Regions from separate parts of the Homo sapiens genome. Here region 2 is linked to region 1. The links come from fine-mapping of genetic effects on gene expression. A gene starts in region 1. The other region holds a variant in brackets. All regions are shown on one strand. Distances are from middle to middle. Region 1 holds the start of CD70 (CD70 molecule). Region 2 has its middle 20 kb from the start of CD70.

What was found. PIP is the estimated chance that this variant, and not a neighbour inherited with it, causes the effect.
Region 2: its variant is fine-mapped to the expression of CD70 in esophagus muscle (GTEx, PIP above 0.99). The same link has a PIP of 0.9 or more in gastroesophageal junction, subcutaneous fat and visceral fat.

Annotation. Positions count from the first base shown.
Region 1 is chr19:6,586,580-6,594,856 of GRCh38, reverse strand. CD70 (CD70 molecule) reads left to right here and starts at 3,707. Exons shown (of 3, transcript NM_001252.5): 1 at 3,707-4,016; 2 at 4,721-4,754. The coding sequence starts at 3,855. It also overlaps the pseudogene RPL7P50. RefSeq lists enhancers at 1,888-1,987, 2,008-2,467, 3,538-3,937, 4,438-4,807, 5,986-6,065 and 2 more.
Region 2 is chr19:6,606,901-6,615,229 of GRCh38, reverse strand. No RefSeq gene overlaps it. Among named protein-coding and RNA genes, the nearest start is that of CD70, 20 kb to the right of the region's middle. RefSeq lists an enhancer at 6,113-6,222. The variant C/G (reference allele first, on the strand shown) is at 3,905.

The DNA.
Region 1 (8,277 bases):
TTACAGGTGTGAGCCACTGCGCCCGGCCAAGCAGTTGTATTTATTTTTATGAGTTGGCTGCTCCTGTCTCATTTTGGGATTTTCCTAAGACACCTCGGCCTCCCAAAGTGCTGAGATTACATGTATGAGCCACCCCACCCCATCTCTCTTTCCCCCATCTTTTAGAAGGTATTAGTTATTTCTTAATGATATGAATCTAAACTATTTATATCTTAAGCTGATAAAAAGATCAGCTAAGTAAATATTAAATAAATTAAGGTAGGAGATTGTCTTGAAGGTGCTGTCTACCCGCTTCCCCCAGACCTGGAGTCCTAGGGCTTCCGTGAAGGAAATCCCTTTAGTACTTGGGGATCTCAGGGAGGATATTTTGATTTCTGGATACCTCAAAATTCTGGACCTCTTTGACCACCCTCTTCACCCACCCAGCAAATGCTATAGGCTCAGGCTCTGAAATCTCCCATTTTTATCTCCTTTCAATTTTTTGCTTTTTGTTGGTAATTTTGCTGTTTCAAACAGCCCCCAAATAGTGCTGAAGCCCTGTCTAATGTCCCCCAAGAGCAAGGAGGCCGTGATGAGCCTCACAGAGGAGGAAATCCACGTGTTAGAGAAGCTATCCCCAGGCACGAGTTCTAGCGCTGTTGGCTGTGAGTTTGCTGCTGATGACACTGACTTCTTGATGATTCATAGCCAGAGGCCCTTGGGACCCTAACTGTATGTATATACAGACATATTTTTCTTTCCATTTGAGAGCAGGTAATGTTTATTGAACAGCTTAGAAAAATAATTATAGTACACACCATAGTTCATTCTTCTAACAAGCCTGTTGATCTGGTCCTCCCTGTTGCCAGCATCTCCACCTTCCACGAAATGGGTGGTCTGTTTCTTCATTCTGCCTCATGGAGAAGATACTTTGAAGGACCACAGGAAGTTATGTGCTTCTTTGAAGCGTTTTCCAACAGTATGGACCTCATGAATCACATCCTCCATACAGATGATGCCATATTTTCCAAGAGATCGTGCAAAGCGTTATCTGTCAAAGCAATTCGTTTCTTATTGATTTTGCCATAACCACGCTTGTAGATTAGTTTATTTACTGACTTCAGATTTAGGTACCCGCATGCAATGTATGGCTCTACAATCCTCAGCATGTTAATTGGCCTTCACAAAGGTTCCATTGAAGATTTGACAAAGGCAAAGAAGCTGCAACACATTTCGGACCTTTGGGCTCACACCATCGATACCTCTGATCCTGATGACAAACGCCAGTCTGGATTCTGCAGGTTCATAGAAGTTGCCAGCTTTTCTTGACATCTTTTCCATTCGAATTTCAGTTCTGTACCTCTGCCTATATTCCTTGTGATAGTGCTTCAATTTTTCATAGATAAGCTTCCTCCTTGCCTTTCGAAGCATCTTTTGGGCAAACTTCTTTCTCAGGCGCTTGGTCTTCAGCTCTGTGAAATTCCTTCGCTTTTTCTTAGGGGTTTCTGGCACAGCGGGAACTTCCTTCTTCTTCTCTTCTACACCCTCCATGGTTCCAGCCGGAAAAAGAGGCTGGATCCTCTTTTTAAAAAATATATATATTTTTAAGACAGAGTCTCGCTCTGTCACCCAGGCTGGAGTGCAATGGTGTGATCTCGGCTCACTGCAACCTCTGCCTCCCGGGTTTGAGCGATTCTCCTGCCTCAGCTTCCTGAGTAGCTGGGATTAAAGGTGCCCACCACCACACCCAGCTATTTTTTGAATTTTTAGTAGAGATGGGGTTCCACCATGTTGGCCAGGCTGGTCTCCAACTCTTTTTTTTTTTTTTTTGAGACGGAGTCTCACTCTGTCACCCAGGCTGGAGTTCAGTGGCGTGATCTCGGCTCACTGCAAGCTCCACCTCCCGGGTTCACGCCATTCTCCTGCCTCAGCCTCCTGAGTAGCTGGGACTACAGGCGCCCGCCACCATGCCCGGCTAATTTTTTGTATTTTTAGTAGAGACGGGGGTTTCACCGTGTTAGCCAGGAGGGTCTCAAACTCCTGATATCAAGTGATCCGCCTGCCTCAGCCTCCCAAAGTGCTGGGATTACAGGCGTGAGCCACTGCGCCTGGCTCCTTCTTGGTGTTTCTTGACTTTCATCTGCCTCATTCAGTTTCTGTTTCTGTTTTCACACGGCTCCTTCTCTATGAGCCTCTTTTCTCTCCACCTGAGGGCCCACTCTAATCCAGTATGACCTCATTTAAGCCTAATTATATCTGCAAAAAAAACCCCGTAATTTCAAAATGAGGTCATATTCTGCAGTTCCAGGAGGCCATGAATTCTGGGAGGACACCGTTAACCCACTACAGCCATCGAGAACAGCAGCAGGAGGCTGGATGCGGTGGCTCACACCTGTCATCCCGGCACTTTGGGGGACCTACGCAGCAGGATCGCTTGAGCCCAGATGTTTGAGACCAGCCTGGTAACATAGTAACACCCTATCCTCTACCCCCCCCAAAAAAAAAATTAGCCGGGCATGGTAGCGTGTGCTGGTAGACCCAACTATGCAAAAGGCTGAGATGGGAGGGTCACTGAAGCCCAGGAGTTTGAGGCTGCTGTGAGCTGTGTGGCGCCACTGCATCCAGCCTGGGCAACAGAGCAACACTCTGTCTCTAAAAATATTAATTTAGGCCGGGCGCGGCGGCTCACGCCTGTAATCCCAGCACTTTGGGAGGCCAAGGCGGGCAGATCACGAGGTCAGGAGATGGAGACCATCCTCGCTAACATGGTGAAAACCCATCTCTACTAAAAATACAAAAAGTTAGCCGGGCGTGGTGGCGGGCGCCTGTAGTCCCAGCTACTTGAGAGGCTGAGGCAGGAGAATGGCGTGAACCCGGGAGGCGGAGCTTGCAGTGAGCCGAGATGGCGCCACTGCACTCCAGCCTGGGCGACAGAGCGAGACTCTGTCTCAAAAAAAAAAAAAATAAATAATAAAATAAAATAAAAATAAAAAATAAAAATATTAACTTAATTTAACTTTAAACAAAAAAGCAGGTGGTCTCCAAGAATGCAGGAGATAACTGACCGGGTGCAGTGTCTCATGCCTTTAATCCCAGCACTTTGGAAGGCCAAGGCGGGTGGATCACCCAAGGTCAGGAGTTCAAGTCCAGCCTGGCCAACATGGTGAAACCCCATCTCTACTAAAAATACAAAAAATTAGCCAGGCATGGTGGCGCGCGCATGTTACTCCCAGCTACTCGCGAGGCTCAGACAGGAGAATCGCTTGAACCCAGGAGATCGAGGTTGCGGCGAGCTGAGATGGCGCCACTGCACTCCAGCCTGGGTGACAGAGGGAGACCTCCGTCTCAAAAACAAAACAAATCAAAAAAATGCAGGAGAGGGGTACACGAATATTTGGGGAGCACCCCCAATTCTTGGATGTCTGCTGTATCCCCAGTGCACAGCACAATCTAATCCCTAATAAATGTGCAGTGGAGGTTTGTTGAATAAATGAATGGGCCCCAGAAGAATGAGGTGGAGAGGGGAATAGGAAGATTGAATGTCTCCTGCCTGAAGGTCGGGCGGGGAGGGGTTGGGGGCAGGCAACTCTGAGGCTCACCCGGGGCCACTGCCTGCATCCTGGCAACTGCCTCCACCCACTTTAGGATCTTCAGACTGGCAGCGGTTGGAGGGAATTTCCCCTCGCCAATTGCTCAAGTCCCTCCCCTCGACCGGCCGGACATCCCCAGAGAGGGGCAGGCTGGTCCCCTGACAGGTTGAAGCAAGTAGACGCCCAGGAGCCCCGGGAGGGGGCTGCAGTTTCCTTCCTTCCTTCTCGGCAGCGCTCCGCGCCCCCATCGCCCCTCCTGCGCTAGCGGAGGTGATCGCCGCGGCGATGCCGGAGGAGGGTTCGGGCTGCTCGGTGCGGCGCAGGCCCTATGGGTGCGTCCTGCGGGCTGCTTTGGTCCCATTGGTCGCGGGCTTGGTGATCTGCCTCGTGGTGTGCATCCAGCGCTTCGCACAGGCTCAGCAGCAGCTGCCGCTCGAGTCACTTGGGGTGAGTTGAGATGGAAAAGTTGGGAAGAAAACATAGAGAGGCGCGTGACCGAAAAGACAGAATGAGATGGGTACAAAGAGGCCAGAGAGGAAGATCTGGTAGGGCAGAGACAGAGACCAGAACAGGGAGGCGAGGCGGGGACCAGGCTGCCCGGTGTAGGGGCTACGAGACAGGCAGCCCTGCCAGGAGGTACAGGGAGATCCCGGGATGGGAAAGGTAGGCACACATGGAAATGGAAGATGACTCGGCTCTGGTGTTCCCCCGGCAGGCTGACTCAGAGGCTGCTGGGGGCTTCACAAGGCTGGGCGTGGGGGCTTCCTGGGGCCTCCTAGGACGGGATGGCCCCAGCCACTCGCTCCGGGTGGGGGAGGGGTCCCTTTGGGGACCGCGCCGGGCGCCTTTGCAGCGTAGAGAGTCCGCTGCGCGCGGTGCTCTCGCGCCCAGTGACATCCAGGAAAACGATTCGGGAAACGAAGAAGTTCTTTTGAAGGTCTCGACTTCACGTTCCCCGCTGGTTCAGACCTGCTTCCTCTTTAAGAAGTCTTAAGAGTAAAAAAAAATAAAATGAAATAAAATCACCAGTGCGCGCCGTGGGATGAGAGGTGGAAAGGAGGATGGACAGAGAAAAGAGAGCTCCTGGCACAGGGGACACATAGAACCTCTCTGCTTACGTCCGTGCCCTGTTTTCTGGTCTTTTCTTCCAGTGGGACGTAGCTGAGCTGCAGCTGAATCACACAGGTAACACGGGGGACGTGGAGGGACGGGGAGAAGAAGAGGCACAGAGAGAGAAGGAAGGAGAGGTAGAAAGACAAGTGGGGAGAGACAGAGAGAAAGAGACACAGACAGAGACGGAGGGAGAGAGGGAGGGAGAGATAGGGAGGGAAACGGAGAGGGGGAGACAGAGAGAAGACAGAGAGGGAGGGAGAGGCCCAGAGAAAGGGAGGGAGAGACAGAAAAAAGAACAGAGAGAGGGACAGAGGGGACAGACGGGACAGGAGAAGAAGGGGAAAGAAAGAAACAGGGAGAGACGCAGGGAGAGTGGAAGAGGGAGGGAGGGAGACAGGCGGGGGAGACAGAACGAGAGAGAGGGAGAGAGACGGAGAAAGAGAAAAAAGACAGATAGAGGAAGAGAGAATAAAAACGAGAGAGGCGACCTGGCGTGGTTGCTGGAGCCTGTAATCCCAGCGCTTTCGGAGGGCGCGGCGGGTGGATCACTTGAGCCCAGGAGTTTGAGACCAGCCTGGCCAACATGGTGAAACCCCGTCTCTACTAAAATTACAAAAATTAGCCGGGTGTGGTGGCAGGCACCTGTAATCCCAGCTACTCAGGAGGCCGAGGCAGGAGAATCGCCTGAACCTGGGAGGCAGAAGTTGCAGTGAGCCAAGATAATGGCACTGCTCTCCAGCCTGGGTGACAGAGGGAGATTCTGTCAAATAAATAAATAAAAAGAAGAAAGGAAAAGAAAAAGAAAGAAAGGAAGGAAGGAAAAGAAAGAGAAGAAGGAAGGAAGGAGAGAGGGAGGGAGGTGAGAGAGAGAGAAAGGAAAAAGAAAGAAGAAAGAGAAAAAAAGAAATAAGAGAAAGAAAAGAAAGAAAGCCAGAGAGAGGAAAAGAGAAGGAGAATAACAGAGAGGAAGAGACAGAGACAGAGAGGGGGAAGAAGAAAAACAGGGCGGGGGAGAAAGAGATCATTCCCAAGAGAAAAAGGAAAAGGGAGAGAACGAGAGAGAGAGAGAGGAGAGAGAGAGCGAGCAGGTTTGTGTTTCTGGGCATCCACTACCTTTCTCTCCCTTTCCCTCTCAGTCCTTCACATTCGATCTCCTCCCTTGGAAGAATCAAAGGGGTTTTGTTAGTAAACGAAAACGCTCACAGGAAAGGCTACCCTTCCTCCATTCATGCTACAAGCACTAATTATACATCTGCAGTGGGCAGGCACTGTTCCGGTACTGCAGTCGCGCACAAAACAGACAGAAATCCCTGCCTGGTGAGCTTCCCTTCTACTATCACTCCTACCGAGGAGGAGATGACCAAAAAAATAAAAACGAACATGTGAAAAACAGAGCAATGCCACGTAGAGTAAAACAGGCCAAGAGCAGGTTTTAGAGAAAAAATCAGGCAAGGAGGTGGGTGGGGAATCCGGGCATGCCAGGGTTGGGGATTTTCATTTAAAGTGGAGTCGCGGCGGTCGGGTGGGGGGGTGGTATCTGAGTGGGTGGCATTGGCAAGAAGCCTTGAGGGAGAAGAAATGAACAGTTCTGCTCTAGGTGGAAGTCTCTACCTCCTCCCAGCCTCTCTCGAACGCTTCTTCCTCTTCTGTTTTTCCACGGTTCATCCCCAGAGACTAAAATTACTGCACGCTTGCGTGTTTTGTTCCTTCCATTTTGTAATGGAAGGGACCTTTGTTGCTCTCTCTTCTCCTTGGGTCTCTGACCCCTGATATATCTTCCCCCCCTCCCCGGCCTTTGCCATATTTTTCCTGTAATTTGGTCTTGAGGCCCCTTTCTGGAGAGTGGCTGTCCAGCCCCACATCGATGGGGCACCAGGGGTGGTGGCCACAGGTGTTGACAGTGTCTTTCACAGGACAGCTCTTTCTTCTGGTGGATGATATCATGCCTAAGTGTGTGACAGGGGACCAGGTGTCACTCTTACAGGAAATTTGCAAAGCCTGGTAAACACCCTTGGGGCTCCTGTTTGACCCCGTTCAGTTCCTTCCTAACAAGATAGCCAGTCTCCAGGAGAGCCTTGAGTGAGGAGGAGAGTGAGGCTCAGGTGTGTCAGTCAGATAAGTTGCGGAGACAGGAGACGCTGAGATGAAACACGTGAAATATAGCCGAGGACCTTGGCTCCCGGCTGTGATCCCAGCGCTTTGGGAGGCTGAGGTGGGAGGATCGCTTGAGCCCAGGAGTTCTAGACTATGTTTCTTGGGAAACATAGCAAGACCACCATCTCTAGAACAAAATTTTGAAAATTAGCTGGTCATGGTGGCGCATGCCACCTCCCAGTGACTCGGGAGGCTGAGGTGGGAGATAGCTTGAGCCCCAGAGGCTGAGGCTGCAGTGAGCTATGATTGCACCACTGCACTCCAGCCTGGGTGACAGGACCAGACCCTGTCTCTAAAGAAAATAAAGATCCTAGAGAGAAGAGGGCCAACGGGAAGGTAGGGGAGCTCTCTGAGACACACACTCAACCAGCGGGTGGAAAGCAAGAAAAAAAAAGGGTCCTGGGAGCCAAAGCTTTTATTGGCGTTCAGGGTGTGACCCGAGCAGGCGTCCCTTGGGGAATTCTCTCGTGCACTCTCTTGCGCGCTGTCTCGTGCGCACGCTGTCTCTCTCGTGCTGTCTGTCTCACTCTCTCAGGCACTCTCTCGCTCACTCCCGTGCACTCTCGAGCTCTGTAGCTCTCATCCTCTCTCACACACACACTCTCCCATGCACTCTCTCGAGCTCACTCTCACACTCTGTCTCGTGCACTCTCTCTCAAGCTCTCTCGTCCTCTCTCACACACACACTCTCTCTCTTGCTCTCTCTCTCATGCTGTCTCTCGTACTCTCTCCTGCTCTCTCGTGCTCTCTCTCACTCTCTCGTGCACTCTCCCTCAAGCTCTCTCGTCCTCTCTCTCACACTCTCTCGCTGTCTCATGCTCTCTCTCCCTCATGATCTCTCTCTCTCTCATGCTGTCTCTTGCACTCTCTCCTGCTCTCTCGTGCTCTCTCGCACTCTCTCGTGCACTCTCCCTCAAGCTCTCTCGTCCTCTCACACACTCTCTCGCTCTCTCATGCTCTCTCTCTCATGCTCTCTGTCGCACTCTCTCGTGCACTCTCGTCCTCTCTCACACATACACTCTCTCTCTTGCTCTCTCTCTGCATTCTCTCTCTATATATCTCTCCCTCCCCCTCTATCTTTACCCTTGTCTGTTTCTGTTTTTTTTTTTTTTTTTTTTGTCTCTCTCTCTCCTGGTGTCTCTCTCTCCCTGTCTCTACCCCTTTCCCCTTACCCCTCTCTCCTTCCCTTTAGATCTCTAACCTTCTATCCCCCTCCCTTTTTTTTGAGACAGGGTTTCTGTGACCAAGGCTGGAGTGCAGTGGTGTGATCATAGCTCACTGCAGTCTCAGCCTCCCAGGCTCAAGCGATCCTCCAGCCTCAGCCTCCCAAGAGTAGCCAGGACCAGAGGCGTGCACCACCACACCTGGCTGACTTTTTATTTTTTGTAGAGATGGGGTCTCGCCCTGTTGTCCAGGCTGGTCTTGAACTGCTGACCTCAGG
Region 2 (8,329 bases), 20 kb before region 1:
CACACACACGTATACTTCCTGCTGAGGTATTGACTGGGATTGCATTGAATCTATAGATCAATAGATATTGGTGTAGAATTGGTGTCTTCATGGTATTAAATGTTCCAACCTCTTGGCCATGGTATATCCTTCTATTTATTTAAGCTTTCTTTAATTTTCTCAGTAACATTTTATGGTTTTTGGTGTAGAATTTATATAGTGCTTCCATTAGATGTAGTCCCAGGTATTTGATATATTTTTGTTGAGTTTGTAAATGACATAGTTTTACATGTCTTTTCTAGTTGACAGTGGTATATAAAAATATGATTTATTTTTGTACTTTGGCTTTGCCTCCGGTGTTGTTGCTAAATCAATATATTAAAACTATGTGTAGGCCGGGCGCAGTGGCTTATGCCTGTAATCCCAGCACTTTGGGAGGCTGAGGTGGGCGGATCCCCTGAGGTCAGGAGTTTGAGACCAGCCTGGGCAACATGGTGAAACCTCATCTCTACTAAGAATACAAAAATTAGCCGGGTGTGGTAGTGCATGCCTGTAATCCCAGCTACTCAGGAGGCTGAGGCAACAGAATTGCTTGAACCCGGGAAGAGAAGGTCGTGGTGAGCCAAGATATACCACTGTACTCCAGCCTGGGCAACAGAGCAAAACTCTGTCTCAAAAAAAAAAAAAAAAAAAAAAAACTATGTGTAGGTTGGGCGTGGTGGCCCACACCTGTAATCCAAGTACTTTGGAAGGCTGAGATGGGTGGATCACCTGAGACCAGAAGTTTGAGACCACCCTGGCCTACACGATAAAACCACATCTCTACTAAAACTACAGAAAAAATTAGCTGGGTGTGGTGGTGAGCACCTGTTGTCCCAGCTACTTGGGAGGTTGAGGGAGGAGAATTGCTTGAACCTGGGAGGCAGAGGTTGCAGTGAGCCGAGATTGCACCACTGCACTCCAGCCTGGGCGACACAGTGAGTCCATCTCAAAAGTAAAAATAAAACTATGTGTAGATTATTTAGAATTTTCTTTTTTTTTTTTTTTTGAGACAGAGTCTCACTCTGTCACCCAGGCTGGAGTGCAGTGGTGTGATCTCGGCTCACTGTAAGCTCCACCTCCTGGGTTCACGCCATTCTCCTGCCTCAGCCTCCCAAGTAGCTGAGACTACAGGCGGCTAGTTCTTTGTATTTTTAGTAGAGACAGGGTTTCACCGTGTTAGCCAGGATAGTCTCGATCTCCTGGCCTCATGATCCACCCACCTCGGCCTCCTAAAGTGCTGGGGTTACAGGCGTGAGCCACAATGACTGGCCTAGAATTTTCTACATACATAATGAAGTAATCTCTAAATAATGACTCATTTCTTCCTATTCAATCTTTTTGTCTCATTGCATTGACTAAAACCTCAAGTTCAATATTAGCTAACTCATTTCCTAATTTTAAAAAACGTGCAGCTCACTGCCAGAGTTCATTTAACTTTACATAAACACACTTGTTGAGGCTGAAGCAAATCTGGTTGAGTTTCAATGTGCAAATAAAATATAAAAACTGTTCTTGGAGTTATTTCTGAACAGAATTTGTCTCTAATCCTAATGTAGCAGAAATGTATATGATGTTACATTGGGATTAGAGACAAGAGTATTCTCGGGGCAAATGGGAAATGGGTTAAAAGTAGTAATAACAATCCTGGCCGGGTGTGGCGGCTCACGCCTGTAATCCCAGCATTTTGAGAGGCCAAGGTGAGCAGATCACCTGAGGCCAGGAGTTCGAGACCAGCCTGGTCCAACGTGGCGAAATATCATCTCTACTAAAAATACAAAAATTAGCCAGGCATGGTGGTGGGCACCTGCAATCCCAGCTACCCGGAAGGATGAGGCAGGAGAATTGCTTGAACCCGGGAGTTGGAGGTTGCAGTGGGCCAAGATTATGCCACTGCACTCCAGCCTGGGTGACAAACTGAGACTTCATCTCAAAAAAAAAAAAAAAAAGAGAACATAAATTATTCTACTATAAAGACACACGCACCATATGTTTATTGCAGCACTATTTACAATAGCAAAGTCATGGCACCAACCCAAATGTCCATCGATGATAGACTGGATAAAGAAAATGTGGTACCTATACACCATGGAATACTACGCAGTCATAAAAAGGAAAGAGATCGTGTCCTTTGCAGGGACATGGATGAAGCTGGAAACCATCACCCTCAGCAAACTAACACAGGAACAGAAAACCAAACACCGCATGTTCTCACTCATAAGTGGGAGCTGAACAATGAGAACACATGGACACAGGGAGGGGAACGTCACACATCGGGCCTGTTGGGGGGTGAGAAGTGAGAGGAGGCAACTTAGAGGACGGGTCAGCAGGTGCAGCAAACCGCCATGGCACACATATACTTATGTAACAAACCTGCATGTTCTGCACATGTATCCCGGAACTTAAAGTTAAAAAAAAAAAATTGACCGGGCGCGGTGGCTCACACCTGTAATCCCAGCACTTTGGGAGGCCAAGGCGGGCGGATCACGAGGTCAGGAGATCGAGACCATCCTGGCTAACACGGTGAAACCCCGTCTCTACTAAAAATACAAAAAATTAGCCGGGCGTGGTGGCAGACACCTGTAGTCCCAGCTACTCGGGAAGCTGAGGCAGGAGAATGGCATGAACCTGGGAGACGGAGCTTGCAGTGAGCCGAGATCACGCCACTGCACTCCAGCCTGGGCAAGAGAGCAAGACTCCGTCTCAAAAAAGAAAAAAAATTAGCCAGGTGTGGTGGTACACACCCATAATCCCAGCTACTCAGGAGGCTGAGGCAGGAGAATGGCATGAACCCGGGAGGCAGAGGTTACAGTGAGCTGAGAGCACACCACTGCAGTCCAGCTTGGGCGAAAAGAGCCAGACTCCATCTCAAAAAAAAAAAAAAATCACCAACATATTTTCTATCTCTGGTTTCTCAAAAACTAAGGATTACTTACCTTATTAAATCTTCACATACCCCTACTGAATCCCTGGGTAGATGCGTTCTCTCTGTTTACTAACCAAAATATTAAATATAATCATTGCAACTCTCTCTTATGTCTTCCAGTGGTCAGAAGTGTATCATAGCATTTCATATTTATCTTATCTTTGTAACCTGCATTTTTACCAGTTCAATATAATTTTCACATATTGATTGCTAAAGAGTGAAATGAAGGAATTAGGTTAAAATGTTTTTATTGGAAACTATCATGTCAAGTACCTTTTTTTTTTTTTTTTTTTTTGAGACAGAGCCTCACTCTGTCACCCAGGCTGGAGTGCAGTAGTGCGATCTCGGCTCACTGCAACCTCTGCCTCCCGGTCTCAAGCGATTCTCCCACCTCAGCCTCTCAAGTAGCTGGGACTACGGGAGTGTGCCACCTCACCCAAGGAATTTTTGTATTTTTCTTTTTTGTAGAGACAGGATTTCACCATGTTGCCCAATGTGGTGAAGTACTTTTAATGTGGAAATTTCCAATAGCCATATGAGTTTGGGCATATCTCAGAAAGTCAGCAAACAGTGAGATCAAGCAAAAAGACGGAGTAGAAAGCTCTGGGAGCCCCTCCCTCCAGTGAAATAAACAGTGAACTGAGGGGCAGGAGACACAGAATCAATGATTTCAGAACTAGTCATCCTGTTGCAGCACTTATAATAATGAGAGGAGTGCTTGATGAAAAGAGAGACTGAGACTTTAGAAAGAGAACAGCCTTCACAAACCAGCCCCCACTCCCCATTCCTCCGTCCGAGTGGGGCAATTTGGAGACAGTCCATTTTCCTCAAACAGGTGACCAGTGCCAGAGCAGGCAGTTGAGACCTTGGCCTCCAAAATTTGGGGAATTTGCACTCTACTAGGTCTGGCAATTCCTGAGAAGCCAATAAGATGCTTGTTTTGGCTCTCTTGAGTCCCTT[C/G]GTATCCCTCAGACTTAGAGGTTCGATGCCTTGTAAAATCTTTGTCATGTTACTAACTGACCACAAAATGGAAAAGACACTTCAGTGATCACACCCAAAGGATACACAGTTGCCAAAAAACAGTCGGGAAAAGTCAGAAATGAATAGTTTCAGCCTTCAGTAAGCAGAAATCAGCAATCCATGAAGACTTGGAGCATCGGAGTTCCAGACTTATGAATCATAATACTCAGGATGTCCAGTTGTAATTACAAAGCATAAAGACATAGGAAAGTATAACTCATTTACAATAAACCATGATTTAACATATACTGTTACTAGGGAAGCCCACACATTGAAACTATTAGTCAAAGACATTAAATCAACTGTCTCCAATGTGTTCAGTGAGATGAAGGAAAATATGGACAAAGAACTAAAGCAGATCATGAGAATGATATATGAAAGAAGTGAGAATGTCAATAGAAAGAAATAAATTATTAAAAATTCACAAACAGGAATTCTGGAGCTGAAAGTTACAATAATGGAGGTGATAATTCATTAGACGAATTCAAGAACAGATTTGAGTAGGTAGAAAAAAGATCAACAAACTTGAAGATAAGGCAACCATAAAGTTAGCAAATCCAAGAAGCAGGGGAAAAAAGTGAAGACAAATACACAGAGCCGGCCGGGTGCGGTGGGATGTTAACAATGGGATTGTTTGTGGAGCAGGGGGCTCTAGGGGTGTGTGGGAACTTTTTGTATTTTCTGCTCAATTTTGCTGCGAAACTAAAACTGCTCTAAAAAGACTTTTTTTTTTTTTTTTTTTTTTTGAGACGGAGCTTCACTCTTGTTGCCTAGGCTGGAGTGCAATGGAGCGATCTTGGCTTACCGCAACCTCCACCTCCCAGGTTCAAGCAATTCTCCTGCCTCAGCCTCCCAAGTTGCTGGGATTACAGGCATGAGCCACCACACCCATAAAAGCCTATTTTTTAAAAAGTTTTGACTAGTACCTTTTCCCCATTACACCTCTGTCCCACTCATCCTTTAAAATGTATTTTGACTGTGATATCAGCTGGGGCATGACTTCAGAGGAAAAGGTATTGTATAAAAGGAACTCTGGAGTCAAAATAAAGTTTGAGTTTTGAATTTTGGCTTTGCTTTATTTATTTATTTTTATTTATTTATTTATTTTTCTTTTTGAGACAGAGTCTCACTCTGTCACCTAGGCTGGAGTGCAGTGGCACGATCTCAGCTCACTGCAACCTCCGCCTCCTGGTTTCAAGTGATTCTCATGTCTTGGCCTCCCAAGTAGCTGGGATTACAGGCACCCGCCCCCATGCCTGGCTAATTTTTGTATTTTTAGTAGAGATAGGGTTTCACCATGTTGGCCAGGCTTGTCTCGAACTCCTGACCTCAAGTGATCAGCCTGCCTCAGCCTCCCAAAGTTTTGGGATTACAGGCGTGAGCTACCACGCCTGGCCAGCTTTTACCTTTAATAAGGTACTTAACCTTTTTAAAACCTAAGTTTTCTTATCATTGTTCACTGTGTCCTTTCATATACGTACGTTATGGAAATATCTATGGATTGTTTTTAAAATTCTAGTTGTTGCTGAAAATTCACAAAAGGCATCTCAAGATAATACTACTTATCTCCCAGGGCTGTTGGAATATTAACTGAGACCATTTTGTTGCTGTTGTTTTTGTTTGTTTTTTGAGACCATATTTATTTTTAAAATAAAAACAGAATGCAAGAAAGTTGGCCTGACACAAATGGGAACTCATCAAATGCAATCTCCAAGAGGGTAGGAACTTTGATTTCTGCACTATTGTATTAATACCTTGGAAACAGCAGGAACTCAGAAATATATGTTCAGTAATTTTAAAAAAAAAAAAAAGCTTGGCTAGGCTACTGAATGATCACAGACCACATGGAAAGAAAAAGAGGCTTGATGCCATTACAGGTGGGACTATGGAGTTCTCTCTTGGAGGGGTGACTGTATTTTGCAAGCAGGAAGGAGCATGAGCTGAGTTTCTGTGATCAAATGGGTGGGTTTTGATAGCGATTCGTGTTCTCCACCTAGTATTTTCAGCTTTCTTTCTGACTCTTGCAAGCATGCCACTTCCCTGCACCCACTAAAGTTAAGCAGGGTCACTGACACGCTTTGGTTAGTGAAAAGGGACTGGCAATGATGTGTATCCATCTGTGGTTTTCTACTTTACACTCCTAGCACAAGGGTCATGTCAAGATGAAAACCGTCTAGGCATGAGCCACAGCGCCTGGCTGGAACATCAGTTTTACTGCAAGATTTGGAAGAAACAAATTGAATTGATTACCAAGAGAATGTGCAAGAACTATTAAGTCTTAGGACACATGGCCAAGACCAAAAGTCTCTGGTGATGGGCTGGGGTGGGGCCCCGTCCCACAGCCCTCGGACCAAGTAAGAAGAAAAAGTAGGAGGGGGAGGTGGCTTATGCCTCTAATCCCTGCACTGTGGGATTAGCTGGGTGTGGTGCCTCATGCCTGTAATGTCAGCTACTCAGGAGGCTGAGGCAGGAGAATTGCATGAACCCAGGAGGTGGAGGTTGCAGAGAGCCAAGATTGTGCCACTGCACTCCAGCCTGGGCGACAGAGTGAGACTCCTACTAATAAATAAATAAAAGAAAAACTAAGTTAAAATTTGTAAGGGCATAAAACATAATTTTAATAGGAAGCTATGAGAATTATCTACACTTGCAGATAATTGAATGAGCTGAGTTATCTGATGATTGATTGAATGATCGAATTATAGGTAACTGTGATTTTTCTTTTTTTTTTTTGAGATGGAGTTTTGCTCTTGTCACCCAAACTAGAGTACAGTGGCAAGATCTCGGCTCACTGCAACCTCTGTCTCCCAGATTCAAGCGATTCTCCTGCCCGCCACCACGTCTGGCTAATTTTGGAATTTTTAGTAGAGATATGGTTTCACCATGTTGGCCAGGCTAGTCTCGAACCCCTGACCTCAGGTGATCCTCCCGCCTCGGCCTCCCGAAGTGCTGGGATTACTGGCATGAGCCACTGCGCCTGGCCTTTGCTACTTAATTTTATAAGACATCTACTTTTTCAAATATTTGCTGTTTTTGCTCTCATGATATGAAAATTTTTTTATTGTGAGGGAGCATTTCTATGAAAACAATAGTAGAAATTTGTGCCAATTTTGGTTATTAAAATAATAAAATTGTTGGGTTAGTTTGTTATTCTTAACCAAATGCTCCTACAGATAGCATATTGCACAGATGGTTTGATTGTTTTTTTTTCATCTTAGGTGAATTTTCCTTAATTTTATTCATCAAACTGTATTTACTTGAGATAAATAGACATTGTAGTTACTGTGTGCTCTACAGATCTCTACTTTTTTAAAAATAAAAATTCTCGGCCAGGCGCGGTGGCTCACGCGTGTAATCCCAGCAGTTTGGGAGGCTGAGGTGGGTGGATCAGAAGGTCAGGAGTTCAAGACCAACCTGGCAAAGATGGCAAAACCCCATCTCTACTAAAAACACAAAAAATTAGACAGGCGAGGTGGCGCAAGCCTGTAATCCCAGCTACTCGGGAGGCTGAGGCAGGAGAATCGCTTGAACCTGGGAGGCAGAGGTTGCGGTGAGCCAAGATTGCACCACTGCACTCCAGCCTGGGCAACAGGGCAAGACTCGGTCTCAAAAAAAAAAAAAAATTCTCAGTCAAAACTCTGACCTATTTTATAAAAATTTGGATTGTAAATACTACTTCGACGTAACTTATATGTACATTAATGATTAGTAAGTGGAGTAATTCTATTCTTTAAAGGGGGGAAGTCTATATGAGTGTATTAATTTGTCAAAATGGTACAGTTCAGATTGTACCTTTCAATATGTATACATTTTATCTAAAAAGAAAACCCAAAAAACTAATAAATTGGGGGGTAGGAAATGGGTCAAAGTATAGATGAAGCAAACATGGCATGACTAGTAGCTGTTCAACCTGGGTGACAAGTCTATTATACTATCTTTGTATTCTGTATATATTTTTGTTTTTTGAGATGAAGTCTGGCTCTCGTCACCCAGGCTGGAGTGCAGTGGCATGATCTCAGCTCATTGCAACCTCCGCCTCCCAGGTCCAAGCAATTCTCAAGCCTCAGCCTCCTGAGTAGCTGGGACTGCAATTGCACATGACCACGCCTGGCTAATTTTTGAATTTTTAGTAGAGAGGGAGTTTCACCATGTTGGCCAGGCTGGTCTCGAACTCCTGACCTCAGGTGATCTGCCCGCCTCGGACTCCCAAAGTTCTGGGATTACAGGCGTGAGCCACTGTACCTGGCCTGTATTTTGTGTAGGTTTTTAATGTTTGGTGACAAAACACTTGTTGAAAATGAAAAAAAAAAAATTAGTCGGGCATGGTGCCGTGCACCTGTGGTCCCAGCTATTTGGGGGACTAAA